4 linked regions of the Homo sapiens genome follow. The protein of the gene in region 1 purifies or fractionates together with the protein of each later gene. This does not show direct contact. Each region holds a gene or a part of one and is shown on either strand. Other genes may lie near its edges.

Evidence for each region.
Region 2: the proteins of SLC39A4 (region 1) and GOLM1 purify together in Homo sapiens (affinity purification with mass spectrometry; 5 studies listed by BioGRID and IntAct, with this or other methods). This does not show direct contact.
Region 3: the proteins of SLC39A4 (region 1) and LETMD1 purify together in Homo sapiens (affinity purification with mass spectrometry; 5 studies listed by BioGRID and IntAct, with this or other methods). This does not show direct contact.
Region 4: the proteins of SLC39A4 (region 1) and ABCB10 purify together in Homo sapiens (affinity purification with mass spectrometry; 5 studies listed by BioGRID and IntAct, with this or other methods). This does not show direct contact.

Annotation. Positions count from the first base shown.
Region 1 is NC_000008.11:144,413,787-144,421,933, forward strand, and holds the start of SLC39A4 (zinc transporter ZIP4 isoform 2 precursor), read right to left. Parts: upstream 3,059-8,147; 5' UTR 3,004-3,058; coding exon 2,812-3,003; exon of another isoform or gene 2,423-2,811; coding exon of another isoform or gene 2,306-2,422; coding exon 2,024-2,305; exon of another isoform or gene 1,634-2,023; coding exon 1,441-1,633; exon of another isoform or gene 1,325-1,440; coding exon 1,188-1,324; exon of another isoform or gene 1,111-1,187; coding exon 939-1,110; exon of another isoform or gene 836-938; intron 649-835; coding exon 476-648; intron 310-475; coding exon 172-309; exon of another isoform or gene 170-171; intron 96-169; coding exon 1-95. UniProt on the Homo sapiens protein: Selective transporter that mediates the uptake of Zn(2+). Plays an essential role for dietary zinc uptake from small intestine. The Zn(2+) uniporter activity is regulated by zinc availability.
Region 2 is NC_000009.12:86,075,453-86,082,723, forward strand, and holds part of GOLM1 (Golgi membrane protein 1), read right to left. Parts: intron 3,890-7,271; 5' UTR 3,869-3,889; coding exon 3,740-3,868; intron 2,140-3,739; coding exon 1,960-2,139; intron 1-1,959.
Region 3 is NC_000012.12:51,043,533-51,051,476, reverse strand, and holds the start of LETMD1 (LETM1 domain-containing protein 1), read right to left. Parts: upstream 3,151-7,944; 5' UTR 3,121-3,150; coding exon 2,999-3,120; exon of another isoform or gene 2,465-2,998; coding exon of another isoform or gene 2,444-2,464; coding exon 2,292-2,443; intron 1-2,291. UniProt on the Homo sapiens protein: Plays an essential role for mitochondrial structure and function, as well as thermogenesis of brown adipocytes.
Region 4 is NC_000001.11:229,555,645-229,563,617, forward strand, and holds the start of ABCB10 (ATP-binding cassette sub-family B member 10, mitochondrial), read right to left. Parts: upstream 3,064-7,973; 5' UTR 3,009-3,063; coding exon 2,492-3,008; intron 2,419-2,491; exon of another isoform or gene 1,096-2,418; intron 1-1,095.

The sequences.
Region 1 (8,147 bases):
TGCCGGAGCTCGCTGGGTGCCAGCTGCAGGGACACACCGTGGCTGTGGCCCCCGTGGCTATGGCTGCTGTGGCCGCAGGGCCCGTCCTCCAGGTCCTGTGAGGGTAGGTGCTCAGTGTCCACCAGGCCCCCAGCACACCCACCCGCCGGGTACCTTCCCAAGAAGCCTGACCTCCGGGTCCCTGGGCAGCAGGAGATTGAAGAGGTTCTCAAACAGGAAGAAGGCGTAGAGCCCGGCCAGCATAGCCAGGAGGCGCCAGGTGGGCTGTGGGCTGAGGCCCTCTTCGCTGTGTGTATGCAGCCCCAGCACCTGGGGAGTAGGGGCGCTGGGCTGGGGGGGAGGTCCCAGGGCGCCTCCCACCAAGACCCAGGGAGAGGGGTCAGGAGGTGGGGTGGGTAAGGTCCCTGGGAGGGCACGGCCTGGGAGTCCATGGTGGGGAACGGAGGGCCAGGGTCGCGGGTTTGTGGGGGCAGACCTTGGGCGTCAGATGCAGGACAGCGTCCCCAGTGACTGCACCCACTGCCAGGCTCAGGAAGGTCTGCAGGATGTAGTGGGTGACCCCCCTGCAGCCAGTGCAGGTCAGCAGCAGGAGGCCAAAGACCGCGCAGAGGCAGATGAGCAGCGTGGCCAGGGAGCCGTACAGATACCCTGGGGGCGGGTGAGGCGGCTGTGAGAGCTTTTCTTCCAGACTCAGCCCCTGCTTCCCGGGCGCTGCTCACCAGAGCTGCAGGCCGTCAGTGTGGGCCAGGCCCTCACTCAGGCTGACCCTCCTGCCTCAAAGCCCCACTCTCCTGGCGACGCCACCTTCCCCTGTGTCTGTTGTTTCTACTTCCAGCCCCTGCTCACTCTCTCCATCCCTCATCCTGGGCAGCCACTCCTTCCTTCCTACACGGGCTCCACCTCTGTGCTGCCAGCACAATGTCGGCGTGGGCACTCACTCTCTGACTGGCTGAGCTGGTCCTGGACGGGGGGCCTGGACTGGGAGGTGCAGGCTCCACTCAGCTGCTGTTGGAGCAGGGCAGGGCTCAGTTGGGCCCAGGCCTCCGGGGTCACCCCAGCCTGTTCCGACAGTCCATATGCAGCCATCACGTCCCTGGCACTCAGGCATACCTGGGGGGTGGCAGGACAGGCTCAGGGGCCCAAGCAGACCCCGGTGAGGCCCCATCTTACCCCAGGGCGCAGCTCACCGTGTCCCACACACTGGAGCTGTTGCTGGAGCTGATGAGGGGCACAGGGTCCCGGCTGCTGGCTCCCCTGTGCCGATGACTGTGGTCACTGTGGGCCTCCCTGCCCACCCCCAGGCGCTGCATCAAGGCTGACAGCTCTGGCAGGGAGAAGAGTTGGCACCGCGAGTCTGTGTGGGCTCCGGCCCTGCCCCCCAGGGACGTGGAGGCTGGGGACTCGGGGGTGCCCCCCTCCACAGCCCAGCCCAGGCCTCACCGGCCAGCGTCATAGGGACCTCGCTGCTGTGCTGCTGGAACACAAAGTCCACGAAGTACTGAGGGCTCGGCAAGGCGTGGAAGCAAGACCCGCTCCTGACATGGTCCAGCAGGGCAGCCAGGACGCCGCCAGCACTGCCCGGAGCCCCCGCCCCCACCGCCTCCTCCAGCAGCTGAGGGATATCTACGCAGGCCTGGGGAAGAGGGGGCCTCCGCCTCAGCCTTTGGTGTGACCTTCTGCCATCCACCCCGCTGCCCCTGGATGCATCTCCCACCCCAACTACAGGATCTGCCCCCACCAGCCCCGCCCCTCCCTGGAGCCACAGCCCTCCCTGCCGGGCCCAGCTGCTTCAGGCTCCCACTCAGGCCTCTGGGTTCCTCCCTCATGAGGTCCCTCCCGGGGCTCCTACAGGCTCCCAACTGCCCAGTAGTGAGCCCCACGTTGTGAATCCCCAGCCGCAGGCCGACTCCTGGGCGTCTCCCCAGGCCCCCAGGCTCCCCGAAGGCTTTGCAGCCAGGCCGGGTCCCATGGGCCGTGGGACCCTCCTCACCCACTCCCCTGGTCTGCCTGGACTCTCCCTCACCATCTTGGGGGTCTGGCCGGCAGCCCGGGCCTGCATCCTCTGCAGCAGCCAGCTCAGGCCCGGGGTCAGGGCCTTGGGGCTCTCGAGCAGGGCCAGGAGGTGGTCTGCATGAGAGGCCCAGAGGCCAGCCCGAGCGTCCTCACAGGTGCCCTCGGGGTTGCTGAGGTACAGGACGGCGGCGGCACTGAGGCGGGCGACGTACCTGGCCTCCAGGACCGGGCCCGGGGGCAGCCCTGACCCCTCAGGCTCGCCCAGGCCCAGGGCGTCCTCCACAGACAGGCACTGTGGGCAGAGACAAGTGAGCAGGGGCGCTGGGCCCACCAGGGAGGGGAGAGGCAGGCCTGGCCAGGGGCTTCCCCGAGGGCCTGTTTCCCTTTCAAGTCCAACAACGTCCACCATCCTCTCTCAACCCCTGGCGCCCTTCCGTCTCCCCAGGCCCCTGTCCTGCTTCCCCAACTACAGGGGTGCACGCAGAGGGGTCCCCAACAGTGGTCCCCCATCCCCAGGGGACTCCCCTGGAGCCACTGCCAATTTGATGGCAGAGGGCCGGCAGGGGGAGTTGGCCCTGGGGTCCTGGGGAGAAGAGGGACTGTGTCCCTGGAAAGGCCTGTCTGCCCTCATGAGCAGGAGGGTGGGCTCTGGCCTGTGGGGAGGGTCAGGGTGCCCAGGTACTGCCACTAGCCTCCTCCGCCTCCTGGAGTTTGCCCAGGGCCCTTTGCTGCCGGCTGGCAGGGCGGAGCTGGCGGGAAGAGGCCAGGGCTGGGGGACCCGTCGGGTGGGGCTGTTACCTTTCCACACGGCCCGTTGGCGCAGTGCACACGGTCCGCCAGCGTATTTAACAGGCCGCCCAGAGCCTCTTGATCCAGAGCGCCCTGGCCAGAGGTGAGCAGGCTCAGCAGACCAGCAGGCGGGGACGCCGTCGCCGTCACCACCAGCACAGCCAGAAGCAGCCCCAGCTCCAGCGAGACCAGGGACGCCATACTCAGCTCCCAGCGTGCTCAGTGGGTGTTGCTGTGGCCAAGGCCCAGTGCTTCTGGGCTGGCTGAGGGCGGCTTTGCTGGGGTTGTCCAGGGCCAGACTGGGGCTGGGCTAGGACCCGCCCGGGCTGCATGAGGACCTCTCCCAGGTATTCCTGCAGAGCTCTGTGATTGGCTGCTGGAGATGCCTGGGTTAACCATTCCAGTGGCAGATCCTCCCCAACAGCCTGGAGCCACTGCCTGTGGGGGTCGAGGGCTGGGCCCCTTCCCCTGGACAGGCAGCCTCGGTGGTCTTTTTTTTTTCGAGTTGGAGTTTTGCTCTTGCTGCCCAGGCTGGAGTGCAATGGCGTGATCTTGGCTCACGGCAACCTCCGCCTCCCGGGTTCAAGTGCTTCTCCTGCCTCAGCCTCCCGAGTAGCTGGGATTACAGGCAGCGCCACCACGCCCGGTTACTTTTGTATTTTTAGTAGAGACAGTGTTTCTCCATGTTGGTCAGGCTGGTCTTGAACTCCCAACCTCAGGTGATTCGCCCGCCTTGGCCTCCCAAAGTGCTGGGATTACCGGCGTGGCTCACCACGCCAGGCCAGCCTGGGTGGGCTTCTGTCCTCTGCCTGCTGCCCCCCAAGCTGTGGGGCAGGGCTGGGGTGTCCCCTTCTGGCTGTCCATCTGGGGGCTGCCTCCAAGCTGGGGGACACAGGGCAGAGGTGCACAGATGCCCCCAGAGCCTGAGAGCTCCCAGGTCCCTGCCTCTGCCCCTCCCAACAGAGGCTGCCCAGACACCCTCGGTGGCCCCTGTTGGGGGTGGGGACATGGACCTCCCTCCTCCTGGGTCCTGGGCTGTGGTCCCTGTTGGGGACTGCGATGGAGTCAAAGAAACTGAAAAGGTGCCTGCTGCATCATGCTCCCTTAGGCCGGAGACAGCCCCAGGAAGCTCCAACACAGACAAACAGGAAGACGGAGCTGGGCCCTGGCAGCCACCTGGCCGAGCTTGGGTCAGGATAAGATTGGGGCAAGACCCCAGCTCTAGCCCCGGGGGCAGGGAGGCTGTGGCTCCCAGCCCTGCCCTCTCTGTGGGCTCCCTCTCTGGCCTTTGAGCCTAGAGGCCTTATCTCTACCGTGGTGGTGATGGCAGGAAGTCTGGGGGAAGGGGAAGGCAGATCTCAGGGCAGCTTTGCCTTCTGAAGGGGGAGTCCAGATGCCACCTCCCGCCCGGTCCAGCCAGCCTGACCCTGAGCATTGTGGGTGGGGCTGGGGTGGGGAGCTGGGTGCCTGAGGCCCAAGGACTCTGTCCCGCCATACACAGGGTGGGACGGGGCAGGGCGGGCATTGAGCCCAGTGTCCTGGGGTCAGGGTGCTTCCCCTGCCGGCCTCACCCCACCAAGCGGATCTCATGGTGCTCCTCTGGCTGGGCCCACCCGCAGTGGTATCCTTCTGGGGGCCCTTAGGGGAGCCTGCCGGGGGTGCAGATCCTGCCGGGGGTGCAGAGCCTGCTGGGGGTGCAGATGATTTCTGGGTCCCAGGACCATGAGGGGGCTGCTCTACACACAGCCTGAAGATGCTGCGGACCCAAACTGGCCCTTTCCCTCCCACACCACCCCAGGACCAATGGGCTGGCTGGAGGCCACCCATGCTAAAATAGGCTCAAGGGCCTACTTTAGCTTCTGGGCAAAGGTCTTGGCCTGGGCCTGACTCTGTGGCCTTCCTGAGCTGCCTCCCCAGTAGGCCTCAGTGCTGGGCTACAGGCCTCCTCCATTCCCTCCATTCATGTGACCCCACCCCTCCCAGCAGAAACTCTCTTCCGTAGCCCAGGAGCAGCTGTTGAGGGTTTCACCTGCCCATGCCCCAGCCTAAGGCCGGCTTCCCCAGAGCAGACGGGTTGCACTCTCCTGCCCCTCAGGCCCACTCTGTCATCCAACAAGCTCACTGCAACTGGCCCATCTTAAAAACAACACCGGCTGGTCACGCTGGCTCACACCTGTAATCCCAGCGCTGTGGGAGGCCGGGGCGGGGGGATCACTTAAAGTCAGGAGTTTAAGACCAGCCTGGGCAACATGGTGAAACCCGAGCTCCACTAAAAACACAAAAACAAATTAAGGCACCCTGAGTGGTGGTGGGTGCCTGTAGTCCCAGCGACTCGGGAGGCTGAGGCAGAATTGCTTGAGCCCAGGAGGTGGAGGCTGCAGTGAGCCACGATCGCATCACGCACTCCAGCCCGGGCAACCTGGCAAGACCCTGACTCTAAAAAGAAAAAAACAACAACAAAAAAAAGCCCACGTTCAATGGCAGCACTATTCAAAAGATGGAAGCAACTCAAGTATCCAAACGCGCATGAGTGAACACATCGTGGTTCATCCACAGTGGAACACGATTCAGCCAGAAAAAGGAAGGAAACCGGCCTGCACCGTGACTTGGATGCACCTGGAGGAGACTGTGATGAACGAAAGCAGCCAGACGCAAAAGGGCAAGGACGGTGTGATCTGACTGATGTGAGGACCCCAGCCAGTCAAATTCATGGAGACAGAAAGTAAAAGGGTTTTGGGAGGCCGAGGCGGGCAGATCACCTAAGGTCAGGACTTCGAGACCAGCCTAGCCAACATGGTGAAACCCCATCTCTACTAAAAAATACAAAAATTAGCCAGGCATGGTGGCGGGGTCCCAGCTGCTCAGAAGTCTGAGGCGGGAGAATTGCTTGAACCCCGGAGGCAGAGGTTACAGTGAGCTGAGATCACGCCATTGCACTCTAGCCTAGGCGACAGAGCTAGACTCTGTCTCAAAAATAGTAATAACAAAAAATTTTAAAATAAATAAAAAAAATACAGGCCGGGCACAGTGGCTCATACCTCTAATCCCAGTACTTTGGGAGGCCAAGGCGGGCGGATCACCTGAGGTTGGGAGTATAAGACCAGCCTGGCCAACATGGTGAAAACCTGTCTACTAAAAGGTACAAAACTTAGCTGGGCATAGTGGCAGGAGCCTGTAATCCCAGCTACTCAGGAGGCGAAGGCGGGAGAACTGCTTGAACCCGGAAGGCAGAGGTTGCAGTGAGCCGAGATCGCACCATAGCATTCCAGCCTGGGCAACAGAACGAGACTCTGTCTAAAAAAAAAAACAAAAAATTAAATAAGTTAAAAAAAATACATGCCTGGCACCCAGTGGCTCATGCCTGTAATCCTAGTACTTTGTAGGGCCAAGGCAGGCGGATCACCTGAGGTCGGGAGTTCCAGACCAGCCTGACCAACATGGAGAAACCCCATCTTTACTAAAAATACAAAATTAGCCAGCAGGGCGTGGTGGCTTATGCCTGTAATCCCAGCACTTTGGGAGGCTGAGGCGGGCGGATCACGAGGTCAGGAGATCGAGACCATCCTGGCTAACACGGTGAAACCCCGTCTCTACTAAAAATAAAAATAATTAGCCGGGTGTGGTGGCGGGCGCCTGTAGTCCCAGCTACTCGGGAGGCTGAGGCAGGAGAATGGCGTGAACCCGGGAGGCGAAGCTTGCAGTGAGCCGAGATTGCACCACTGCACTCCAGCCTGGCCAACATAGCAAGACTCCGTCTCAAAAAAAAAAAAAAAATACAAAATTAGCCGGGCGTGGTGGCACATGCCTGTAATCCCAGCTACTCAGGAGGCTGAGGCAGGCGACTCTTGAACCTGGGAGGCGGAGCTTGCAGTGAGCCGAGATTGCACCACTGCACTCCAGCCTGGGCGACAGAACGAGACTCCATCTCAAAAAAAAAAAAAAAAAATACAAAATTAGCCAGGCATGGTGGCACATGCCTGTAATCCCACCTATTCAGGAGGCTGAGGCAGGCGACTCTTGAACCTGGCAGGTGGAGGTTGCAGTGAGCCGAGATCACGCCATTGCACTCCAGCCTGGACAACAAGAGCGAAACTCCGACTCAAACAAACAACAAAATACAAAACTTAAGCCAGGCTGGCGGCATACCCCTGTAGTCCCAGCTATTCGGGAGGCTGAGGCAGGAGAATCACTTGAACCTGGGAGGTTGAGGCTGCAGTGAGCTGAGATCATGCCACTGCACTCCAGCCTGGGCGACAGAGCCAAACTCTCTCTCAAAAAAAAAAAAGAGAAAGAAAAGAAAGAAGGGTGACTGCCAGGGCTGGGAAGGGGAGAATGTGTGTGAGTGTTTAATGGGGATGGAGCTTTACTTTGTTTGGATGGAAAAGTTCTGGAGGTAGACGGTGGTGAGGTTGTACAATAATGTAAATACACTTAATGCCCCTGAACTGTGTACTTAAAATCAGTTAAAATGGCAAAATTTGCTATATTTTATCACAGTAAAAAAAATAAAATAGGCCGGGCACGGTGGTTCACGCCTGTAATCCCAGCATTTTGGGAGGCTGAGGCGGGCGAATCACCTGAGGTCAGGATTTGAGACTAGCGTGGCTAACATGGTGGAACCCCGTGTTTACTAAAGATACAAAAACTAGCCGGCTGGGCGCGGTGGCTCACGCCTGTAATCCCAGTACTTTGGGAGGCGGAGGCCGGCAGATCACGAGGTCAGGAGATCCAGACCATCCTGGCTAACATGGTGAAACCCTGTCTCTACTGAAAATACAAAAAATTAGCTGGGCGTGGTGGCGGGTGCCTGTAGTCCCAGCTACTTGGGAGGCTGAGGCAGGAGAATGGCATGAACCCGGGAGGCAGGGCTTGCAGTGAGCAGGGATGGTGCCACTGCACTCCAGCCTGGGTGGCAGAGAGAGACTCTGTCTCAAAAAAAAAAAAAAAAAAATTGGCTGGGCATGGTGTCTCCCGCCTGTAGTCCCAGCTACTCAGGAGGCTGAGGCAAGAGAATTGCTTGAACCCAGGAGGCGGAGATTGCAGTGAGCCGAGATCATGCCATTGCACTCTAGCCTGGGCGAAAGAGGGAGACTCCATCTCAAATAAAAAATTTAAAATTAAAATTAAAAAAAAAAAAAAAAAAAACAGGCCGTGTGCGGTGGTTCACACCTGTAATCCCAATACTTTGGGACGCCAAGGCGGCAGATCACCTGAGGTCAGGAGTTGGAGACCAGCCTGACCAACATGGAGAAACCCTGTTTTTACTAAAAATACACAATTAGCTGGGCATGGTGGCAACACATGTAATCCCAGCTACTCAGGAAGGTAAGGCAGGAGAATTGCTT
Region 2 (7,271 bases), on another chromosome or scaffold:
ATAAATATTATCTCATTCAATCCTCACAGGCACCCTGTGAGATTCCTTTCTCATTTCCACTTGACAGTTGAGAAAACAGATCCAGAGAATTTAAGTGACTTGCCTAAAATCACACAGCTGAGGGAACTTTAAACCCGGGTCTGCCTGACTCACAAGTTCCATGCCTCCTACCACCAAACCACAGCTAAAATCCTCCTGCAGCTAAGGTTTGATGTGAGAACCCACCCTTGCTCACCAAAATGAAAAGACATTTATATCGCATATTCTAAAAGAGAAAAACTGTGGAAACAGATTCTCTTTTCAAATAACTACTTGATGCTCTTTTTTTTCTTTTTCTTTTTGAGAGATGAGGTTAAAGGGGATTTCAGGAGCACAAAAAGCATATCTCACCAGTAAGAAAAGGGAAGAAACATAAAGAAGCACTTTATTACAACAACATTATGCACAATTCCCAGAGAAGAAATATGAGCTTGCAAATATAGGAAAGTACTCTGCAAATTAAACAACAAAAAAAGTACTTCTTGAATTTTAAATCAGTTATGCGAGAAAAGTCTGAGTCCCTTCCTGGAAATAATTCATTTTCTGAGACAATTCAAGATAATGGAAGTTGAGCTACAACATTCTTCCAATAAATTAGCCACTCCAGAGAGAGAGGTACACGCATTATAAAAGCCAAATTTTTCAGGCCAGGTGCGGTGGCTCATGCCTGTAATCTCAGCACTTTGGGAGGCCAAGACGGGTACATCACCTGAGGTCAGGAGTTCGAGACCAACCTGACCAACATGGCGAAATCCCATCACTACTAAAAAATACAAAAAATTAGCTGGGCGTGGTGGCACATGCCTGTAGTCCCAGCTACTTGGGAGGCTGAGGCAGGAGAATTGCTTGAACCCGGGAAGCAGAGGTTGCAGTGAGCCAAGAGGGCGCCATTGCACTCCAGCCTGGACAACAAGAGGGAAACCCCATCTCAAAAAAAAAAAAAAAAAAAAAAAAAAAAAAAAAGCCAAATTTTTCTAGTTAATAATAGAGGCCAAAGTTTGATGCACTCTGGGACAGGAGATATTAGTAACTCACACAGTTACACAATTTAATAAAGAAAGTATAGTCATATATTCCTACATAAGAAAACCAGGCCGGGCACGGTGGCTCATGCCTGTAATCCTAGCACTCTGGGAGGCTGAGGCAGGTGGATCACGAGGTCAAGAGATCGAAACCATCCTGGCCAAAATGGTGAAAACCCCATCTCTACTAAAAATATAAAAATTAGCTGGGCGTGGTGGCAGGCACCTGTAATCGCAGCTACTCAGGAGGCTGAGGCAGGAGAATCGCTTGAACCCGGGAGGCAGAGTGAGCCAAGATTGCACCATTGCACTCCAGCCTGGGCGACAGAGCCAAACTCCATCTCAAAAAAAAAAAAAAAGACACATAAAGCTTAGATATTTTAATTAGCAGGAAGGCCCCTTTAAATCTACGCAGGATTTGTTGGTTTTTTTCCTAGCTTAAAAGCAAGGGTGCAGTCCCCTACTTTCTCTGTTAGTATTTAGTAGAGTCTGCCTCTCCTCTCCTCCATTAGATACTTGGAGGGCACAAATATTATTTTTCTCTGAGATATAAGCACCTGGCATAGGCCTGGCACAGAGTAGGTATTTAATACATGTTTGTGGAAAGTGGGAAGAAAAAACCCAATAGGAGAAAAAAAAAAGCCAATAGGAGGATGAATCTGAAATTGTTCTTCTGCATTTCTCCTGTTTATTACCACTGCAAAAGGCTTCACCGCAAGCCCAGCCAGGGACTTGGAGGGGAAAGGGAGAGAATGCCCAAAGCTTGATCAATAGGCTCTTTCCACATAATTACATAAATCTAAACCCAGCCGCTTGCTCATCCTCCCGCCAAGAAGAAACAGACAATGTAGACACCATCCCTTAGAAAAGAACTGAGAGGAAACAAAGCAGGCCTTGCCTTTTCGTCCTGGTACAGCTTGTTGACGCTCTCCAGCTGGAAGTTGTGGCTGGACTGGATTTTGTCAAGCTGCTCCCGCTGCTTCTCCAGCTCTCCCTGGAACTCGTTCTTCTTCAGCTCCACGGCGCCTCTCTCTGCAGCCGCCCTGCGGACCCTGCCTTCCAGCTCCATGATCCGTGTCTACAAGGAGACCGTGGCATTAGGGCTGATGCCAAGTTACCTGAGGAGCCTGGACCACCTGAGCGCCCTCCACAAAGACCACCTTGGGGCCCAGGGCCAGCACCAGTCTTATACACACAAGTGCCCAAGGCTGTGTTTTAAGTCAACTGGACAGAAGCTGGAGCGGTTTCTTCTGGAAAAAATGGTCTCTGTCAGTGTAAGTGAAGGAAGGCTCTGTGCACTCACACCACACTTCCCACTGGGTTTTTGTGAGGCTTAAATGTGCTAAGTGCACAGAATGCCTCATGCTTTACCTGGCATAAGATGATGCTCAAATATTTAGTTCTTCTTCGCTGCTAACAAAGCACTTAACAACTCTTTAGCAGATACAATTTCTGAAAACAGATTCAGTTCTCCAACTCCAGACAAGCAGACCTCATCTGCCCAGAGAACAGGAACTCCCGTGGAAGCTGAGACACAGGGAGTACAAGCCCAGGAGGGTAAGTGTGAGAACAGGACAGAGCACAGACGTGCTGGGGTGCCACGGCTAAGCCCATGCAGGTTGGAATCCCTGCTCCACCTCAACCTCTTGGTGCCTCAGTCTGACCCCCTGTGAAATGAGGAAAGTCAAGTCCCAGCCTTGTAGGGTTTGTGCACAAAAGGAGATAATTTGTATAAAGTACTGTGAAAGAGAAATTATTCTGACATTCATTAAAATGGTAAGAAAGACTATTCAAAACGATTGCAATAGGAGAGGGAAATTGTGCTCAATGCCGAACACATCAAAGACAGCTAGGGATTTATAGCCAACGAGCACAGTGCGGGGAGTCAGTGGATGGAAATCGCCCCCAGAGTAGGGGGATTCTTGCTAAACTGGCCTAACAAGATTCTTGCTAAACACAGGCCAAGGACTTAGACAGCAAGGGTAGGGATGAGGAACTTGGTCAAGGATCAGGGGTAGAAGGATGGCTTAGCGGGATCCTTTGCTAGGACTGGGCTGGGCAGGCCAAAGACAGGCAGTGAGAGTTGGGAGGTGCCAAGATCAAGGCCTAGTCAAGAAGACGGCTCAGAAGGGCCCGACTCAAGTTCAATCAAGAGGAGCATCTTTGTCACTGCTCAGCACTGCACCTGACCCATGACTGCACCGGTAAATGAGGAAGTTAAAATTATTATTATCATTAAGTAATGAAGATAAAGATTGGTACCTTTAAAAACATATTTCTTACACCCATCATCCAAGCACACTTCCAATACTACTCTTCGATATCTTGGGCGCCGGAGGACCGCAAACAACGGACTATGGCCAGTGTATGTAAGCAAGCTGTCTTCCCAGAACCACCCCAGTAGCTCAAATGAATGCTGTTAACTCACAGGAAAGGCAGGGAGGGATACCACAACCGCAATCCTACACAACCACAGAGGGGACCTCTCCCACCCAAAGCTGCTTGGGGTCTGGCCCAGGGCTGTGGGGGTGTGCAGAGCCCTAAACTCACCTTACAAGCGTGTGCCCTGCACAAAACGCCCTGGCTGGCAATAAACAACAAACCCCTGGGACCCCATCATAACAAAATAAACAAAACATAAACATAAAATAAACATAACAATAAAGAAAACAAAACACCTGGAGGTCCACGCTCCGGGAGCTCGCAATCCAGTAGTTGAAGCCCAAGACGATGATGCAGGCCACCAGGGCGGCCAGCACGAGGGGCGGCGACTTCATGCTGCGACGCCCGTTTCCCAAGCCCATCATCTCAAAATCAGCGCTGAGAATCTGCCAAGTAAAAGCAAATAAATAAACATCAATACTAGTTTTATCATCTCCGAAGCAGACCGTATCATCCTTACAACCAAGAGGAAAGGAGTCTTGCCAAGAAGCGTGGGCTGGTAGCTTCTCCTTGACGTGCAAAGCTGTCAAGGGAGAAGAGTATGTGAACGGCACGCACAGAGCCCATGGTGCTGTGAACCCAGGGCAGTGTGGCCAGTTCCCAGGACAGGCTCGGAGGAGCAGGCACCGCCCCGAAACCTGCCACAGATTAGCTCGAGACCTGGGGCAAGACATGATTCCTCTTACACTTCAGATTCCTCCCTTGTAAAATCATTACCATACTCACCTTCCCGGCATAGTTTGAGAATTAATCATTTCTGTAAGCAGCAATGTTTGAGAAGTAATCATTTCTGTAAACACCAATAACAAATATTAAGTGCTTCCGCATCATATTAGAAAGAGTATATTCCTCATTACTCCTCAGAGAGAGCTTTTTGCTTTGATTCCTAACAAGGGAGGTTTTTTTTACCCTTGACAGGATTACTAATGACACCCAATTAAAGCATTTCTCAAGCAAAGCAGGAAACCCATTCTGGAGGTGAATGTGAACTCCCCCCCATGTACATCATTATTCAGGCACAGCCCTGGCTATAGAAGTGTCTCCTCCTTCATGACACACAACGGAAGTGGGAGGTGTGCCATCTGCCTGAAGTCACCAGGAAAAATGTGTTCCATCTTAGGATTTGAGGTGGAAACAAGGCATTCACTCCATGCCAAACGAGAGCACCTTCTTTCGAACATTCATTTCTCACTTTAGGGACCGTATCTGTGCAACTGCTGCATTGTACACCTCATGTTAGGAAAAACAGTGCCTCTGTGTGAGAGCTACAGAGTGCACAAAAATACAGCTTAGAAGAAAGATGCCATAAATTTTGTTAATGGGCTTCAATTCAAAGCCAGGTCTGCCTGGATGCAAGCACTGGTCTCTAGGAACAAGGAAAGTAGACTTTTCCAAATGGCTTTTCCCAAGCCAGATAAAACAGAACCTTATCAGAGTGAGCGTGGCTGCACTGCAACAAACAGCCTTTGAGCACAGAGAGCCTTTTACACCAGGGGTGTCTAGCAACAGAGGAGGAAAGGGGATGGTGGGCAAAAAAGACAAGGGACGGGTAAGGAAGAGGATACCACCAAGGATTCACCTGCAAAACCCAATTCTCACCAGTGAGAACATGGGAGAACTGATCCTCACCCTATGGTCTTTTCAGGTGGGTCACCAAAAGGCTTCTTTTTTCTTAACAGCTAGCTACTAGTATGGGGGCCTGCCAGGGGATAAAGAAGCAATCTAGCCGAATCATCTAAAATAAAGCACCCCCAGAATTCCCACGGGTGGAAATTCTGACCTGTGCTCATGTCTTACCAGCTTCTGGCCTCTCAGGATGAAAGGGGAAACCACGTTTTTCTTTCAATTATCAGCTGATATCAGCAAGCACTGAATATACTCAAGAGACTCTTGATCACAAGAGTCTCTTTTTTGACTCTTAAACTTTTTAAAATTTTTGTTTATTTATTTTAGAGACAGGGTCTCTGTCGCCCAGGGTGGAGTCAGTCACGCAATTGTGGCTCACTGAAGCCTCAAACTCTTGGGCTCAAATAATCCTCCTGCCCTCAACCTCTCAAGTAGCTGGGACTACAGACATGGGCCACCATGCCCAGCTAATTTTTTAAAACAATTTTTGTACAGACAGGGTCTCACTATTGCCTAGGTTGGCCTCAAATTCCTGACCTCAAGTGATCCTCCCATCTGGGCCCCTCAAAGTACTGGGATTACAGGTATGAGCCAGTGCACCCAGCCTCAATGATTTTTTTTTTTTTTTTTTTGAGACGGAGTTTCGCTCTTGTTTTCCAGGCTGGAGTGCAATGGTGTGATCTCAGCTCACTACAACCTCTGCCTCCCGGGTTAAAGCGATTCTCCTGCCTCAGCTTCCCGAGTAGCTGGGATTACAGGCATGCACCACCACGGCCAGCTAATTTTGTATTTTTAGTAGAGACGGGGTTTCTCCATGTTGGTCAGGCTGGTCTGGAACTCCCAACCTCAGGTGATCCGTCTGCCTCGTTCTCCCAAAGTGCTGGGAATATAGGCATGAGCCACCGTGCCCAGCTAACCTTGTTTTTAAAATATAAAAGTACAAATACAAGAGGGGGTGGCAGGGACTTTTCCAAATGGCTTTTGCTAAGGAAAAAATAGGAAACTACACACAGTAGAGTATAAATTGGTCGGGTGCAGTGGCTCATGCCTGTAATCCCAGCACTTTGGGAGGCCAAGGCAGGTAGATGGCCTGAAGTCAGGAATTTGAGACCAGCCTGGCCAACGTGGTGAAACTCCATCTCTACTAAAAATACAAAAGCAGCCAGGCATGGTGGCACATGCCTGTAGTCCCAGCTACTCAAGAGGCTGAGACAGGAGAAAAGCTTGAACCCATGAGGCGGAGCTTGCAGTGAGCCAAGATGACACCACTGCACTCCAGCCTGGGCGACAGAGCGAGACTCTGATTAAAAAAAAAAAAGAAAAAAGGATAAATTACATCCCCCTCATCCTACTCCAAAGGAAAGGGATAACATTTTCTAACATCTGGGTCCTTCTGTTCCAGTGGTCCTCAACACTCAAGGGGCATCAGCATCACCTGGGACACTTTTTTTTTTTTTTTTTTTTTGAGATGGAGTCTCTCTCTGTTGCCCAGGCTGGAGTGCAGTGGCGTGATCTAGGTTCACTGCAAGCTCCGCCTCCCAGGTTCATGCCATTCTCCTGCCTCAGCCTCCCGAGTAGCTGGGACTACAGGCACCTGCCACCACACCTGGCTAATTTTTTGTAGTTTTAGTAGAGACGAAGTTCCCCCATTAGCCAGGATGGTCTTGATCTCCTGACCTTGTGATCCGCCCGCCTCGGCCTCCCAAAGTGCTGGGATTACAGGCATGAGCCACCGTGCCCAGCCTGACACTTTTTAAAATATCAATACCTGGGCTCCACCACTGCATTTCTTTTCTTTCCTTTTTTTTTTTTCTTGAGACAGGGTCTCACTCTGTTGCTCAGGCTGACACACTCACTCTGTCACCCAGGCTGAAATAGCTGCCTAGTGGTGTGATCCCAGCCTCAACTCCTGGGCTCAAGTGATCCTCCCACCTCAGCTTCCCCAACTTCCTGGGCTCAAGTGATCCTCCCACTTCAGCTTCCCAAGTAGCTGGGACTACAGGTGTGTGCCACCACGCCCAGCTAATTTTTTCTATTTTTGTAGAGATGGGGTCTCACTATGTTGCTCAAGCTGGTCTCAAACTCCTGGGCTCAGTGATCCTCCCGCCTCAGCCTCCTAAAGTGCTGGGAGTACAGGCGTGA
Region 3 (7,944 bases), on another chromosome or scaffold:
CTCGGCCTCCCAAAGTGCTGGGATTACAGGCATGAGTCACTGCGCCCGGCCTGGAACACTTATTTTTGTTTTTGAGATGGAGTTTTGCTCTGTCGCCCAGGCTGGAGTGCAGTGGCGCAATCTCGGCTCACTGCAACGTCCACCTCCTGAGTTCAAGCAATTCTCCTGCCTCAGCCTTCCGAGTAGCTGGGATTATAGGTGCCCATCACCACACCTGGCTAATTTTTGTATTTTTAATAGAGACTGGGTTTCACCATGTTGGCCAGGCTGGTCTCAAACTCCTGACCTCATGATCCGCCCGCCTTGGCCTCCCAAAGTGCTAGGATTACAGGCGTGAGCCACCGTGCCCAGCCTGGAACACTTTTTAAAGTAGTTTAGTTCAATATATTTTTATGATTACATTTTAAATTTTCATTTTATGAAAATTCTTGCATCTAATTTTTTTCTTTTCTTTTTTTTTTTGAGATGGGAGTTTCACTGTTGTTGCCCAGGCTGGAGTGCAATGGTGCGATCTTGGCTCACCACAACCTCCGTCTCCCAGGTTCAAGAGATTCTCCTGCCTCAGCCTCCCTAGTAGCTGGGATTACAGGCATGTGCCACTATACCTGGCTGATTTTGTATTTTTAGTAGAGACGGTGCTTCTCTATGTTGGTCAGGCTGGTCTCAAACGCCCGACCTCAGATGATCCGCCCGCCCCGGCCTCCCAAAGTGCTGGGGTTACAGGCATGAGCCACCGCGCCCGGCTTCTTGCATCTATTTCTTTAATGCTTTCATATTTATCAATGATTTACATGTCATTATATGATGTCTCGATTGTCTTCAAAATAATACATAAGGCAAGTATATAAATAGGATTGGCAGCCATGAGTTATGATAATGAAGTGAGGTTAATACATGGAAGTTTGTTACACTACTCTCTCTACATCTGTGTGTGTTTAAAAATTTCCATAATAGTTGGCCGGGCGCGGTGGCTCAAGCCTGTAATCCCAGCACTTTGGGAAGCCGAGGCAGGCGGATCACGAGGTCAGGAGTTAGAGACCAGCCTGGCCAATATGGTGAAACCCCACCTCTACTAAAAATAAAAAAATTAGCCTGGTGTGGTGGCAGGCGCCTGTATTCCCAGCTACTTGGGAGGCTAAGGCAGGAGAATTGCTTGAATCCGGGAAGCAGAGGTTGCAGTGAACCGAGATCATGCCATTGCACTCCAGCCTGGGCGACACGGTGAGACTCAAAAAAAAAAAAAATTCATAATAAAAAGTTTAAAAACAAACACAAATGCTTTCATCCCTTTCTCTCATTTGATCCTATTTATCTACATGAAAACAGAAAAAGCAGCCAATTTTATCTCTACAAATTAAGGATAAGTAATTTTTCAAGTCCATGAAGCTAGTAATAATTATGATAATGTTCAGATTTGACAATGTAGTTTATTATAGTGTTATGATAAAAGCATAGAGCATATTATAGATTTGGTGCAAAAGCAATTGTGGTTTTTGCCACTGAAAGCCAAAAGCCGCAATTACTTTTGCACCAACTTATAATACTGTTAGGTAACATTTAGATGAAAATAAGTTAACATTTACTTGGCACTTACTAGGGATCAGGACCTGTTCTAGGTACTTTACATGTATCAATTTTTAAAGTCTTCACAATCATGTGATAAATAGGTAGGTTCCATTACTCCCATTTTACACATAAGAAAACCAAGGAAAGAGGGGTTAATTAATTAGTCCAATCGCACAGTGACGAACTGGGATTTGAATCAGGCAATCTGGCTCCAGAGTAGACACTTGACACGATACATATCTTCTCCTAGTAACTAAGGATCTCTGATTTGAAACAAAACATTTAGAAACCAAGTATTATGTAGGGCTATTGCCACTACAACATACTACCTAATATAGATTCATAACAAGGGTTAGACCTCATTTTCCTATGGGTAAGTCAACTGATACATCACAGGGCAGGTCTATACAGCCACAGATCCCTGCCGTGTGCAAGGCAAAAAATTTCTACTATAGCCAGGTGTGTGGTTAAGAAAGTACGAGAACATACCTATATTCTCCCTCCCTCATGTTGCTGTCATAAGTTGTTTCTCATAACATCTTTCTAGAAACATTCTCAAGAAGTGCTAATTTATAGGAATTAGTTTAAGGCGCAGGCATTTATGAAATATAAGATATCTCGGCTCACATCCCCATAGCAGAACCTGCAAATGATCTTATTTATGCTAACTCTTTGACCCTGCCCAAGAGCTGATTCCGGAATTTCTATTGTAGTTTCGTTTTTACCTTTCATGAAGATTGTGTACAGGACATAGAAGCGGGGGAAATGACGACCCAAGAAACGATGGTATTTCCCATTAATCGCTTTTGTCTTGGTTACCACATAAGACATCAAGTTCTTCACATCTGCCTTTGGAGAAAGGTGAAGCTTTGAAGACCTACAAGGAAGATCAAAGAGACTATCTGGGAATCAGTCCTAGAAGCTCCCTCACGCCTTGAGTCCCTAATGTAAAGCAGGAGTCTCGGAGATTGTATCCCAAGGCTTGACACTTCTGAAATCCAAGGAAGGTCTTGGGGTCAAGAAGAGATAGGCAATCAGACTGTGAAACACAAATCAGGCAAAGGCCAGGCAGGAAAGTAACTCAGGGTATGCCTCTGGAGAGAGCGCAATGCCTGTGGGACAATTTGAACTGCAGGCTAAGTCAGAAAGAGGTGGAATCGAGATAGCAGCGGTAAAACCTGAGCCGAAAAAGTGAGGCTGAAAGATGAGCTCAGGACACGCGGGGAAACCAGACAATATGGGGCACTGAGAGTACAGAGGGTCAGGAAGCCGGGTCACTAGTGGGGATCGGAGTTTGAATCCTGAACAGAAGAATAAAAATTCCAGGGCCAAGGCGTGGAACTCTGAGAATTAAGAGACAGAATGCAAGCAAGGTTGAGACACTGAAAGAGCCTGGACGTCAAAAATGCTTTTCTCGCTACAGGTCCCTCACCGAGGGGCCCCCCAAGCCAGGCCAGAGCGACCAAGTTGCAGCCTCCGGGTGACAAAATGTCCAGGGGTGACTGCCGAGCCCCACACAGCCGACCGAGCCCAGCACACCCTGGAGAGCGCCATCTTCACAGCGAGAGAAGCGGGAGAGAAGAGGTTGTCTTTGGGTCAAAGTTAACCGTACGTCGCGTTCGTTCGAAGACGCATGCGTCTTTTCTGAGCGCTGATTGGTAGCCATAGCCTGCTTGGCTCCAGCACAAGCCAGGAGAGGGAAGGACTCAAAGACTAAGTGCGGAAGGAGGGCCAGGATTGGACACAGCAGTACTTCCAGGTTTAAAGGCGCCGGAAACAGGGTGTCCCAGAGGGAGCGAGTTCTTATGCCACTGGTGTGGGTTTGCGACGCGGAGGGCACCCTGTCCTTGAGGCGCCCAGTGACCCTCCGCGATTCCTTAGGGCCTCAGGGCTTCCCAGCGCCGCCCTTGCCCTCTGCCTGGACTCGGGGCGTCGGAGCCTCGACTGTTAGGTAGCAGATGTCAGTTTGCCAGTGCCTGGGGCTAGGAGGACCCGCGGCGCCCTCTAATGGTGCCGGCGTGGATAGGCCGGGAACTGTCCACTTTCCAGTCAGTCTGGCGGCGAAGGTTGGAGGCCTGGGAGCGGCCCCTGTGCGGACTGAGTACACTTTTTCCTCTCTTTGTCGTTTCCAGAACTAAGTTTGTGGGAAAATGGTTTTCGTTAAGCACCTACCGAAGACCAAGCTCTGTCTCAACTTAAATGTTACTATTCTGAGAGGATTTCTGTGACCACCCTATCTGAAGCAGTGCCGGCGAAAAGGACACACTTCACACTTATTCTCATGTTACTCTGTTTTGTTTTGTTTTGTTGTTTTGTTTTTGTGACAGTTTTGCTCTGTCGCCCCGGCTGGAGTGCAGTGGCGCGATCTTGGCTCACTGCAGCCTCCGCCTCCCGGGTTCAAGCGATTCTCCTGCCTCAGCCTCCCGAGTATCTGGGATTACAGGCGTCCGCCACCACGCCCGGCTAATTTTTGTATTTTTAGTAGAGACGGGATCTCACTATGTTGGTCAGGCTGGTCTTCAACTCCTGGCCTCAAGTGATCCGCCAGCCTTGGCCTCCCAAAGTGCTGGGATTACAGGCGTGAGCCACTGCACCCGGCCTTGTATTTTCTTTGTAGCATCTGTCACTTACAGTGTTTATGTATTTGTGTCCTTGTTTGACAGCTCCCTGAACTAGAATGAGGGTAAGCATCTTCTCTGCCTTGTTCATTGCTGCACCTCCAACACTAGGTGCCTTACTTAGCACATAGTAGGTGTTCAGTAAACATGTTTGAATAGATTCATACTTGAAACTAAGAAGGATTCCCAGAAGTGGTACTTAACTGCCTCCAAGAATTAACAGTCCTCTTGGATATATATGAATATTTATTCTTCATGGAAGGTGGTAGAGCATCCCATGTGGGTTCCCTGGATATAGGTTCAATCTTGGCATTGACGTTTGTTTTAGTGAATGTTACCTTGGATATGTCACTTTAGCTCTGAGTTTATTTCCCTTATAATAGTACCTACTTTATAAGAAATCTTTGAGGATCCAAAGAGAATACAGCTGTGAAAGCTCCCACATCTGTATAATGCTTTATGGGTCACAGAGCTTTATATTAGCACAGGTTATTAATGACTGTACCACTCGTGCAGTCAGAGGAAAAGTTTTAAAAGATGGCCCTGGATCTTCACAAGTGTTGGGTAGATGGGGTGGACGGGATAGAAAGTTGACTAAGACGGCTGGGCGCCGTGGCTCATGCCTGTAATCCCAGCACTTTGGGAGGCCGAAGCGGGCTGATTACCCGAGGTCAGGAGTTCGAGACCAGCCTGGACAACATGGTGAAACCTCATCTCTACTAAGAATACAAAAATTAGCCGGATGTGGTGGTGGGCGCCTGTAATCCCAGCTACTCGGGAGGCTGAGGCAGGAGAATCGCTTTAACCCAGGAGGCGGAGGTTGAGGTGAGCCAAGATCGCACCACTGCACTCCAGCCTGGGCAACAGAGTGAGACTGTCTCAAAAAAAAAAAAAAAAAAAAAAAAGTTGACTAAGACATGGTCTTCATATTCAGGTAGTTTTTTTTTTTGTTTTTTTTTTTTTTGGAGACAGAGTCTCACTCTGTCACCCAGGCTGGAGTGCAGTGGCGCAATTTCAGCTCACTGCAACCTTCATCTCCCGGATTCAAGTGATTCTCCTGCCTCAGCCTCCCAAGTAGCTGGGTTTACAGGCGCCCGCCACCATGCCCAGACAACTTTTGTATTCTTTTTTTTTTTTTTTGACACGGAGTCTCGCTCTGTTGCCCAGGCTGGAGTGCAGTGGCGCAATCTCGGCTCACTGCAACTTCCGCCTCCCGGATTCACACCATTCTCCTGCATCAGCCTCCCGAGTAGCTGGGACTGCAGGTGCCCACCACCACACCTGGCTAATTTTTTGTATTTTCAGTAGAAACGGGGTTTCACCATGTTAGCCAGGATGGTCTTGATCTCCTGACCTCGTGATCCTCCCACCTCGGCCTCCCAAAGTGCTGGGATTAGAGGTGTGAGCCATCACACCCAGTCCAATTTTTGTATTCTTAGTAGAGACGCGGTTTCACCATGTTGGCCAGGCTAGTCTCGAACTCCTGAACTCAGGTGATCTGCCCACCTCAGCTTCGCAAAGTGCTGGGATTACAGGCGTGAGCCAACGTGCCCAGCCATCTTCAGGTAGCTTCTGAGTCATGTCAACTACTCAAGAATGTTCAGCTCTAAAATTCTGGAACTCTCTTGGAAAGGAGACAAAATCAGAATTTTGTGGAGAAAATAGGAAGGAACTGTGTCTGAAAGGATGGAGTAGAGGGGAAGGCATTTCATGCAATGAAAGAATGTGGCAGGAACACAGGTCATTCCTCAGACTTTTCTTTCTTTCTCTTCCTTCCTTTCCTTCCTTTTCTTTCTTTCCTTCCTCTCTTTCTTTCTCTTTCTCTCTTTCTTTCTTTCATAGGGTCTCGCTGTGTCGCCCAGGCTAGAGTGCAGTGGCCCCATCATGGCTCACTGCAGCCTTGATCTCCTGGGCTCAAGTGGTCCTCTCACCTCAGCCTCCCAAGTAGCTGGGATTACAGGCGCATGCCGCCACGCCCAGCTAATTTTTGTGTTTTTAGTAGAGATAGAGATTTGCCACGTTAGCCAGGCTGATCTTGAACTCCTAGACTCAAGCAATTCCCCTGCCTTGATCTCCCAAAGTGCTGGGATTACAGACTTGAGCCACTGCACCCAGCCCTTTCCTGAGATATTTATTTAGTGTTTAGGCCTCTTCCCCCTTTCCCCCGCTACACACACACACACACACACACACACACACACACACGCGCGTGCACACGCACACACACACACACACACACATGCATCTTGTTGGTTCTATCTTCTAGCTGTTCTTCAATCAGCCAGCTTCCTTCTATCTTCTCTGCCACCACCCTAGGCTAAGCTGCAAGCCTCTGGTCCCCACTTCTACAGCAGCCTCTTTACTGGTTTCCCTGCCATATGTTTTGTCCTCCCTCCAACCAGTTCTCCATGTTGTATGTAACCAGAGAGAGCTTTTAAAATTGCAAATCTAAGCTTGTCATTTCTCTTTATAAAACCTTTCAGGTTTCCGACTGGGCGCGGTGGCTCACGCCTGTAATCCCAGCACTTTGGGAGGCCGAGGCGGGCGAATCACGAGGTCAGGAGATCAAGACCATCCTGGCCAACATGGTGAAACCCCATCTCTTCTAAAAATACAAAAATTAGCCGGGCATGGTGGTGCGTGCCTATAATCCCAGCTGCAGCTACTCAGGAGGCTGAGGCAGGAGAATCACTTTAACTTGGGAGGCGGAGGTTGCAGTGAGCTGAGATCACACCATTGCACTCCAGCCTGGGCAACAGAGTGAGACTGTGTCTCAAAAAACAAACAAACAAAAGGCTGTGGGCTGGGCACAGTGACTCACACCTGTAATCCCAGCACTTTGGGAAGCTGAGGCAGGCAAATCACCTGAGGTCAGGAGTTCAAGACTAGCCTGACCAATATGATGAAACCCCGTCTCTACTAAAAATATAAAACTTAGGCTTGGCGCAGTGGTCCATGCCTGTAATCCCAGCACTTTGGGAGGCCAAGGCAGGTGGATCACCTGAGGTCGGGAGTTCAAGACCAGCCTGACCAACATGGAGAAACCCCGTCTCTACTAAAAATACAAAATTAGCCAGACTTGGTGGCGTATACCAGTAATCCCAACTACTCAGGAGGCCAAGGGAGAAGAATCGCTTGAACCCGGGAGGCGGAGGTTGTGGTGAGCTGAGATTGCGCCACTGCACTCCAGCCTGGGCAACAAGAACGGAACTCCATCTCAAAAAGAAAAAAAAAAACAAAAATTAGCTGGGCATGGTGACATACACCTGTAATCCCAGCTATTCAGGAGGCTGAGAGAGGAAAATTGCTTGAACCCGGGAGGCAGAGGTTGCGGTGAGCCGAGATCACGCCATTGCCTCCAGCCTGAGCAACAAGAGCGAAACTCTGTCTCAAAAAAAAAAAAAAAAAGAAAAACCAAGCTGTGCCACAACCACCTTGGGCACGTGTCATCAGGACCTCCTAAGGCTGTGTCATGTCCTTGACCTTGGCAAAATAAACTTTCTAAATTGATTGAGACCTGTCTCAGATATTTTGGGTTCACATAGGTGTGAGTCACTAAGCCAGACCTAGCTCCACTTTATACATGAGGAAAATGAGGTTCAATAATCTGCTCAAGATTGAGTCAGAATTTGAACCCAGGCAGGCTGGGCATATGAGTTAGTGCTGCACTGTATATAAACAGCTCTGTTACAGGAAACTCTTAACCCCACAGACTGAGGTTCCTGTTACTCACTTTGTAGCTAGCTATACTTATTTTTCA
Region 4 (7,973 bases), on another chromosome or scaffold:
AAAAGATTTTTGTATTTTTCTAAAAATTAACAAATTAACATTGGAATTCCTTTTCAGCTCAGCTTTTTTAGTGTTTTGATTAGAAAATACACACACGCAATTGCTCTTTACCTCCAGCATTTCAAAGAGATGTGCCAACACCTCAGGCTGCTCTTAGAATGATAAATTACACATTTTTTTTTAATTACAAATTAACAATGACCACCACTTCCTCTTAATCCTAACTGGCTTTAATATATAATAACTTCTCAGGAAATCATACATCTAAATAAGGGCTTTTTATCAGATATCCTTATCCTCATAACATACAATATGTATTTATCTGTTTGAAAAGCAAAAAAAAAAAAAAAAATAGTGTGCCAACCCTAGGCTTGTTTCTTCAAATTATATATTCATAATTTCTCAATGTGGTGGAACAAAATATATTCTGTTCTTAAAATAAAAAGAAGGCCGGGTGCAGTGGCTCACACCTGTAATCCCAGCACCTTTGGAAGGCCAAGGTGGGCAGATCACCCGAGGTCGGGAGTTCGAGACCACCCTGACCAACATGGAGAAACTCTGTCTCCAAAAATACAAAATTAGCCGGGTATGATGGCACATGCCTGTAATCCCAGCTACTTGGGAGGCTGAGGCAGGAAGATCGCTTGAACCCGGGAGGCGGAGGTTGCGGTGAGGTGAGATCACGCCATTGCACTCCAGCCTGGGCAACAAGAGCAAAACTCCATCTCAAAAAAAAAAAAAAAAGGTACGAGCTGGGTGTGGTGGCACATGCCTGTAGTCCCAACTACTCAGGAGGTAGAGGCAGAGCTGCTTGAGCTGAGGAGTTCAACACAAGTCTCAGCAACACAGTGAGACCCCTATCCCAGAAAAACAAAAGAAGAAAGAAAAAAGGAGGCAGTCTCGTCTTGTTTAAGGCTGTCACCAAAACATACTAGCATGGCAGGATATCTGGGGACAGAGTGAGGGGTCACAGGAACAATGGTCATGGCATAAGAGGACTGGGCACGTGTAGGCCACCAAAGCCTGACACCTAAACACCCTTCCTGACATCTAGTATTTCAGAAACAAAACAGAACTGGATTTCCTTACACTTACTTTGAGTCACATACAGAAGTGGTGGGCGCACCCGATGATGCTCAGGGTTTCTAAAGGCCTCACTCTGTGCCTGGTGGTATGGTCATTTATTCCTTCACTGAAGGCACTCTGAGCGCCTGCTCTGTGCCGTGCACATGCTAAGAACTAGAGACAGAAAGATGAATCGCACAGTCCCCGTCTCAAGCAGCTCAAAGTCCAGTGAGAGCTCCTAGTCTCCAATGTTTTTAAAAAGAGGAAAGAGAAAAAGATATTTTACAACAAAATCTACACTCAACCAACTGAACAATGAAATAATTCTCTTTACACCCGAGTGATATCAACAGCCCCCTAAGCTTTCATAGCAACTGGTAGATGAAAAGTCGCCACCCTAACTGCTCTCCTCCACTGTGCAAACCTACTCTAAATCCCAAATCACTACCCAGGAGGGTCCTTTCTAAAGCAATGGATTTGCAGCAAAGAATGCTTTTCTGGTGTTGCACCTGACAACCTCACAGGCCCCACAGGCCCCCTTCCACAGCCCACAGGTGCAGGTTTACCTCTATACATACGAATATTTCATAGATGCTTCTCCCCACTAACCTAGAAGCCCCAGCAGAAGTGAGGACCATGTTTCCTTGTGCATGCCACTGTAAACCCAGGGCCCAGTCCAGAATGAGGGCTCAACAGATGTTTATAGAAGGAGTGAAGATTTAGAGAAATCGAAAAAATTTTAGATCTTACAAGGCCCTTGCATCTAAACACTCCTCCAATTATGGCTAAAAAATGAGGAGCTATAGAAAACTGTCCTATTTAAATTTTGTTTCTAAAAACATTCATTTTGGCTTCTTTTAAAAAAGTTACTCAATTACTGAACAGATCACTGGTGTGGCCTGTTGAACACAGTGCTGTAACTTCCTGCACAAGAGACAAGTCTGAAAGTTTTGCTTTCCGCTGTGAAAGCATTGGTGACTGCTTGACAGACTCGCTTGAAGCAAATAATGTGTTTTTGGTTAAAAAAAAAAAGTATAAACGCCTAATAACAAAATAGGCATATTTTTGGCTAGAATTTTTTTTTCCAAGGAAAAACCTCCAGCTCATTTTGCTGCCTAAGCCAAAACAGATGCTCCCACTAAGTTGGTGGTGGAACAGACCCAAAGATTCCAATAATGACATATATAACGTGTGTCAACAAGAAAACAAGTGTAAAATCTGCAAACGAGTCCCCAGCTAAGGCGAAATCTTGACAACGCTACTCTGAGGTGAGCGATCCCCTCCCTCCTCCGGGGTTAGGAGTGGCCCAGGAGAGGCGGCGGTGACACGCGCTCTGCGGCCCGGCCGTGTCCCTCTCGGCGCCCCGGGACCCCGCGTGTGGAGAAGGAGAGGCCCGGCGGAGGGAAGTGGCCGGGGAGGACCCTACCTGCCAGCCTCCGGCGCTCAGGGTACGCCAGCCCCAGGAGCTTCCGGGCCTCCGGGAGTCCGGCCGCTGCGGGGCGCAGCCGCCCCTTGTCCCCGGGAGGCGCCGCCGGCCCGCGCCGCCAGGCCTCGTCCCCTGCCCAGGCAGCGGCTGCGGGACCGCCCGGGAACCGGGCGCGCGGGAGCCGAGGAGCGCCTGGCCCGGCAAAAGCCCCGCACCTGCAGCTGCCGGGGCCGCGAGCCCACAGCCCCAGGAGCCGCGCGAGGCCCAGGACGCCCCGCGAGGCGCCCGGACCCCCGCCCCGGCAGCCGCTCCTCCAGCGGCGCGCGGCTCCAACGCCCCAGAGCAGCGCGGGCCCCGCGCCCCATAGCCGCGCCGGCCTCAGGCCAGTGAACGGCGATAGGGACCCGGGAACGCGGCTGGCCGCGGCCCACACGCAGGCTACCGGCAGGAGCCGACCTGGCTCGGCAGGGCTCGGTGGCTCGAGCAGCCGCAGCGGCCAGGCAGGGGGGCCTCGCATGGCGCTGCGTGCGACCCGTACGCCTCAGCCCGCCGGCCAGGCGCGCGCAAAGCCCGAGGACCCTCCCGGCCCGGCCCCGAGCAAAGGGCGTGGACGCGGTGGCGCCCGCCCCTCCCCGCTGGCTGTCACCCGCCTTATCGTGCCTGCACCCTCGGGCTGCGCCCGCCCCCGCCCCATCCTCGTCCGCGCGGTGCCGCGCCTCTCCGCCCCACTCCGGGGACTGCAGCTACCCGGACCTTGCAAGCCACCCTTCCGAGCGCCCCCAACCCGCTCGGGTGCCCTCCCTGCAGCGCCCCCAACTGCCCGCTGGCGGAGGAGCGCCGGGCGCGCCAGCTGGGACGAGGCCCGGGAAGCCCAGGAGCACGGCTGCGCCTGCGTACTGGGCGCAGGGAACTTTTTCGCGCTTCGCCGTCCCCTCTGGTCTGAACTTGGGAACGACACGAGCTCTTTCTCACGCCGGCAGACCGGGCGGAGCGCGCAGACGCGACCACACGATGGCCGGCACAAAGATGGGGCGGGAGGACAGCGTGCTGGATACGGCGTGGGGCGGGTCCGCGGCCCGGGAGACCCATGCTGGGGCGGCCCTGTCACTCGTCTCGCTGCCAAGCACAGGGCTGAGGTGCGGAGGGACCACTGAGAGGACTTCGCTGCGTGTCAGCTCAGCTCTGGACGGCGTGGAGGAGGTGGTTGGCGAATAGTGAAATGTATATAACTTTGAGAAGGGAAGAGATCGTTTCTTTTTTTTCTTTTTTTTTTTTTTCTTGAGACGATCTCGGCTCACTGCAACCTCTGCCTCCCAGGTTCAAGTGATTCTCCCTTCTCAGCCTCCCAAGTAGCTGGGATTACAGGCATACGCCACCACACCCGGCTGATTTTGTATTTTTAGTAGAGACGGGGTTTTACCATGTTGGTCAGGCTCTTTTCGAACTCCTGACCTCAGGTGATCCGCCCGCGTCAGCCTCCCAAAGTGCTGGGATTGCAGGCGTGAGCCACCGTGCCCGGCCTGAGATCGTTTCTTAACTAGAGCAGAAATTTGAAGACAGGCGTGGTCGAGGCATTCCCGCTGTTCGAAGTGGAAAACACTAATCAGAAGGCAATGCATCTTAATACACGTGCATGGAAAGACAGGAGAGAACATTAAAACTCACTGGGACACTTTATGGAGACTTCATGGGGGCGGGGGGGGATATGTACCTGAGGTCCAGTGAGTCGTGGGTAGATTTTTGTAGACTCCTAGGTATTTTTACTGGACCTGGACAGGGTACTGTCAGTTGCAAATTTTATGGGTTCACAAAATAAAAAAACCTCAATAATCAACATAAACATTTTAGTGCAATATTTTTAAAAATCAAAATTAATTTAAAAAATCCGTAATGAACAAAATATAAAAAATTTTGATTGAGTATCCACTCCTGACCTTTCACAATCCTGCCTCTCTTCTCTCGCTCTAATCCCAGCCCTGGAAACTTTATTTACAAAAACTGACAGCAGCTGCCCTTAGTTTGGCAGCTGGAAAATGGGAAAGAGAAAGTAAGAGGAAGGTGAGATTTGGGTTAAAGTTGTCACTTTCTCTTCAACTGGGAGGGTATCAATCCTTGATGTTTCTTTAGTTGGGCTCAAAAAGGAGGTAGCGGCCGGGCGCGGTGGCTCACACCTGTAATCCCAACATTTTGGGAGGCTGAGGCGGGCGAATCACGAGGTCAGGAGTTCGAGACCAGCCTGACCGACGTGGTGAAACCCCGTCCCTACTAAAAATACAAAAATTAGCCAGGTGTGGTGGAGCGTGCCTGTAATCCCAGCTACGCAGGAGGCTGAGGCAGGAGAATTGCTTGAACCCGGGAGGCGGAGGTTGCAGTGAGCTGAGATGGTGCCACACCGCACTCCAGCCTGGGAGACAGAGCAAGACTCCGTCTCAAAAAAAAAAAAGAAAAGAAAAAAAAAGAGGAGGTAGCGGCCAGGCGGTGGCTCACACCTGTAATCCCAACATTCTAGGAGGCCGAGGCGGGCGGATCACTCCAGGTCTGGAGTTTGAGACCAGCCTGGCCAACATGGTGAAACTCCATCCCTACTGAAAATACAAAAATTAGCTGGGCTTGGTGGTGCATGCCTGTAGTCTCAGCTACTTGGGACGCTGAGGGAGCATAATCGGTTGAATCCAGGAGGTGGAGGTTGCAGTGAGCTGAGATCACGTCACTGCACTCCATGCACTCTAGCCTGGGCGACACACCAAGACTGCATCTTTTCAAAACAAAATAAAAACAAAAAAAACACAAAGAGGAGGTAGCAAGATGCACAATGAAAACGATCCCATTTCTTTTCAGAAGTCACCTCATAAAAACTGACTTAAAAATTTTCAATTAAAATAAATTTTGCATGATTTGATTACTGAGACTTTTTAGCACATCTTTAAATTTTGTCCCTAGTAGAGTGCCTTAAGTATATGGTCCTGGTAGGTAAGGAGTGAGGTGGGGGAAGGATCGATAATAGAAAGTGTGGGGTTAAGTCGGGCCTTAAATGTGCCTGTGAAATGAGCAGTAAGCATGTAATCCTCTAAAGTCCAACCTCTTAAACCCAGAGGACATGGAGTCTCGCCTCCCTACCCCCGCCCCCCCACTTTCCTGCCCCCAGGGTGACGACAATTCAAGCTAGTTTCTCATCAGTGCAGAAGTTCTAGAATTGGTGGTGTAGTGTGAAATCAGCTCCACTGATATTTATGACTAAGCATGTTCCTTTTAGCAAATATGTTATTCAGTGACTTCTGAAAAGAAGTAGGATCATGCCTCATCATGCATCCTGCTACCTCTTCTTTGAGCCCAGCTGAAGAAACATCAATGAACGACACTCTCCCAGTTGGAGAGAAAGTGACAATTTTAACCTAGACCTAAGCTTCATCTTTCTCTTACCCACTTTCCAGAAAACCCCTGCTGCTGCAAGGGCCAGGAAATGTCAGACTGGCCTTCCCTTCCTGCCTTCCCTGGCATGGCATCCCACTGCCTTTTTCTGCCATTGCTCTCTAAGGCCTCCAGTCAATAGAAAAATAACTCAAGTGTAGCTGATTAAAAAACAAAACTTGGCCAGGTGTGGTGGCTCACGCCTGTAATCCCAACACTTTGGGAAGCCAAGGTGGGAAGATCATTTGAGGCCAGGAGTTTGAGACCAACCTGTGCAACACTGGGAGACTCCATCTGTACAAAAACTAAAAATGTAAAAATTAGCTGGGTGTGGTGGTGTGTGCCTGTAGTCCCAGATACTTGGGAGGCTAAAGTGGAAGGATTCCCTGAGCCCGGCAGGTCAAAGCTTCAGTGAGCTGTGATTGGGCCACTGCACTCAAGCCTGGGCAACAGAGTGAGACCCTGTATCAAGAAAAAAAAGAAAGCCTGTAATCCCAGCACTTTGGGAGGCTGAGGTGGGTGGATCACCTGAGGTCAGGAGTTCAAGACCAGCCTGGCCAACATGGTGACACTTCATCTCTACTGAAAACACAAAAATTAGCTGTGTGTGGTGGTGGGTGCCTGGAATCCCAGCTACTGGGGAGGCTGAGGCAGGAGAATGGCTTGAACCCAGGAGGCGGAGGTTGCAGTGAGCAGAGATCACACCACTGCACTCCAGCCTGGGCAACAGAGCAAGACTCTGTCTCAAAAAAAAAAAAAGAAAGAAAAGAAAAAAAAAGTCTATAGCTCTTAAAAGTACAATGGGGAATGAATATTAGCAGAAGGATCACCTGGACCTATATTGCCATCACAACAACAACAACAAAAAAGATGACCTACTCTAAATATATATATATATATGTTTATATAACATATACATTTCATATATATATGAATTATTGCTTTGCATTTCTATGACCTTCTCTTCTCACTTGAAAATAAGAATAACTTCACTGCCTCTTTTTTTTTTTTTTTTTTGAGACAGAGTCTCACTTTGTTGCCCAGACTGGAGTGGGCTCACTGCAACCTCCACCTCCCAGGTTCAAGCAATTCTCCTGCCTCAGCCCCCTGAGTAGCTGGGATTACAGGCGCCCACCACCACGCCTGGCTAATTTTGTATTTTTAGTAGAAAAGGGGTTTCACCACATTGGCCAGGCTGGTCTCAAACTCCTGACCTCTGGTAATCCGCCTGCCTCGGCCTCCTAAAGTGCTGGGATTACAGGCATGAGTCACTATGCCCGGCTCTTCACTGCCTCTTTAGAAATTAGGATCAAGTTCCTGGGCCTCTGAAAAAAGCAAAAAAAGAAATAAATAAAGACAAAAAACAAAACAAAAAATGCTCTAAGGTGTGTTTGGAAAAGAATAAAACAAGCCAGTTAGATGTGATTGGATTAATAAAATACCACAGCAAAGCAAGAAAGGGCTGTGTATTAATGCCAAGAGAATAACAAAAGTTTAAGTCCTGCCCACAAGAAAGACACAGAAGGCTCTTGATGGAGGTGTGACTGAACCAAGAGGTAAAATCTGGCCCTCTGAATAGACTCTTAATAGGTTTCGTGGCTAACAGGTATTGAATTCAAAAGGGACTTCTTTTGATGCAAATTGAGAGCTGTTGGGATTACTTCAAGAGCAATTCCACCTGTGGGTGCTTGTCCCTCTCTAAGGGTGGCAAAGGAGGGAGCCCATGTGGACAGCAGGAACGGGTACACGATAGCACAAGAATCAAAACAAAGGCTCTCTGGTCGGAGTTTGTAAGCTGATTAGGGGTGTCATTTGACCCTTATTGGTACATTCTTGTTCTTTCGACTCAAGCCTGCAGCTCATCATGTCAAGGGTAGGGTGTCAGGACTGTGGCTGAAGATGAAGCAAGCAGCTCAGTGAAGCATGCACAGCAAAGGCGTGGAATCCACGTGGGGCAGGAGTGCTTTGTAAATTCCTCTGAAGAGGTTAGGATCGAAGCTTTTGGCAACTCACCTGTACTGTGTGATTACAGTGAATGCTGAGGCTGTAACTTTAACCTCTTAGCACTATGCCT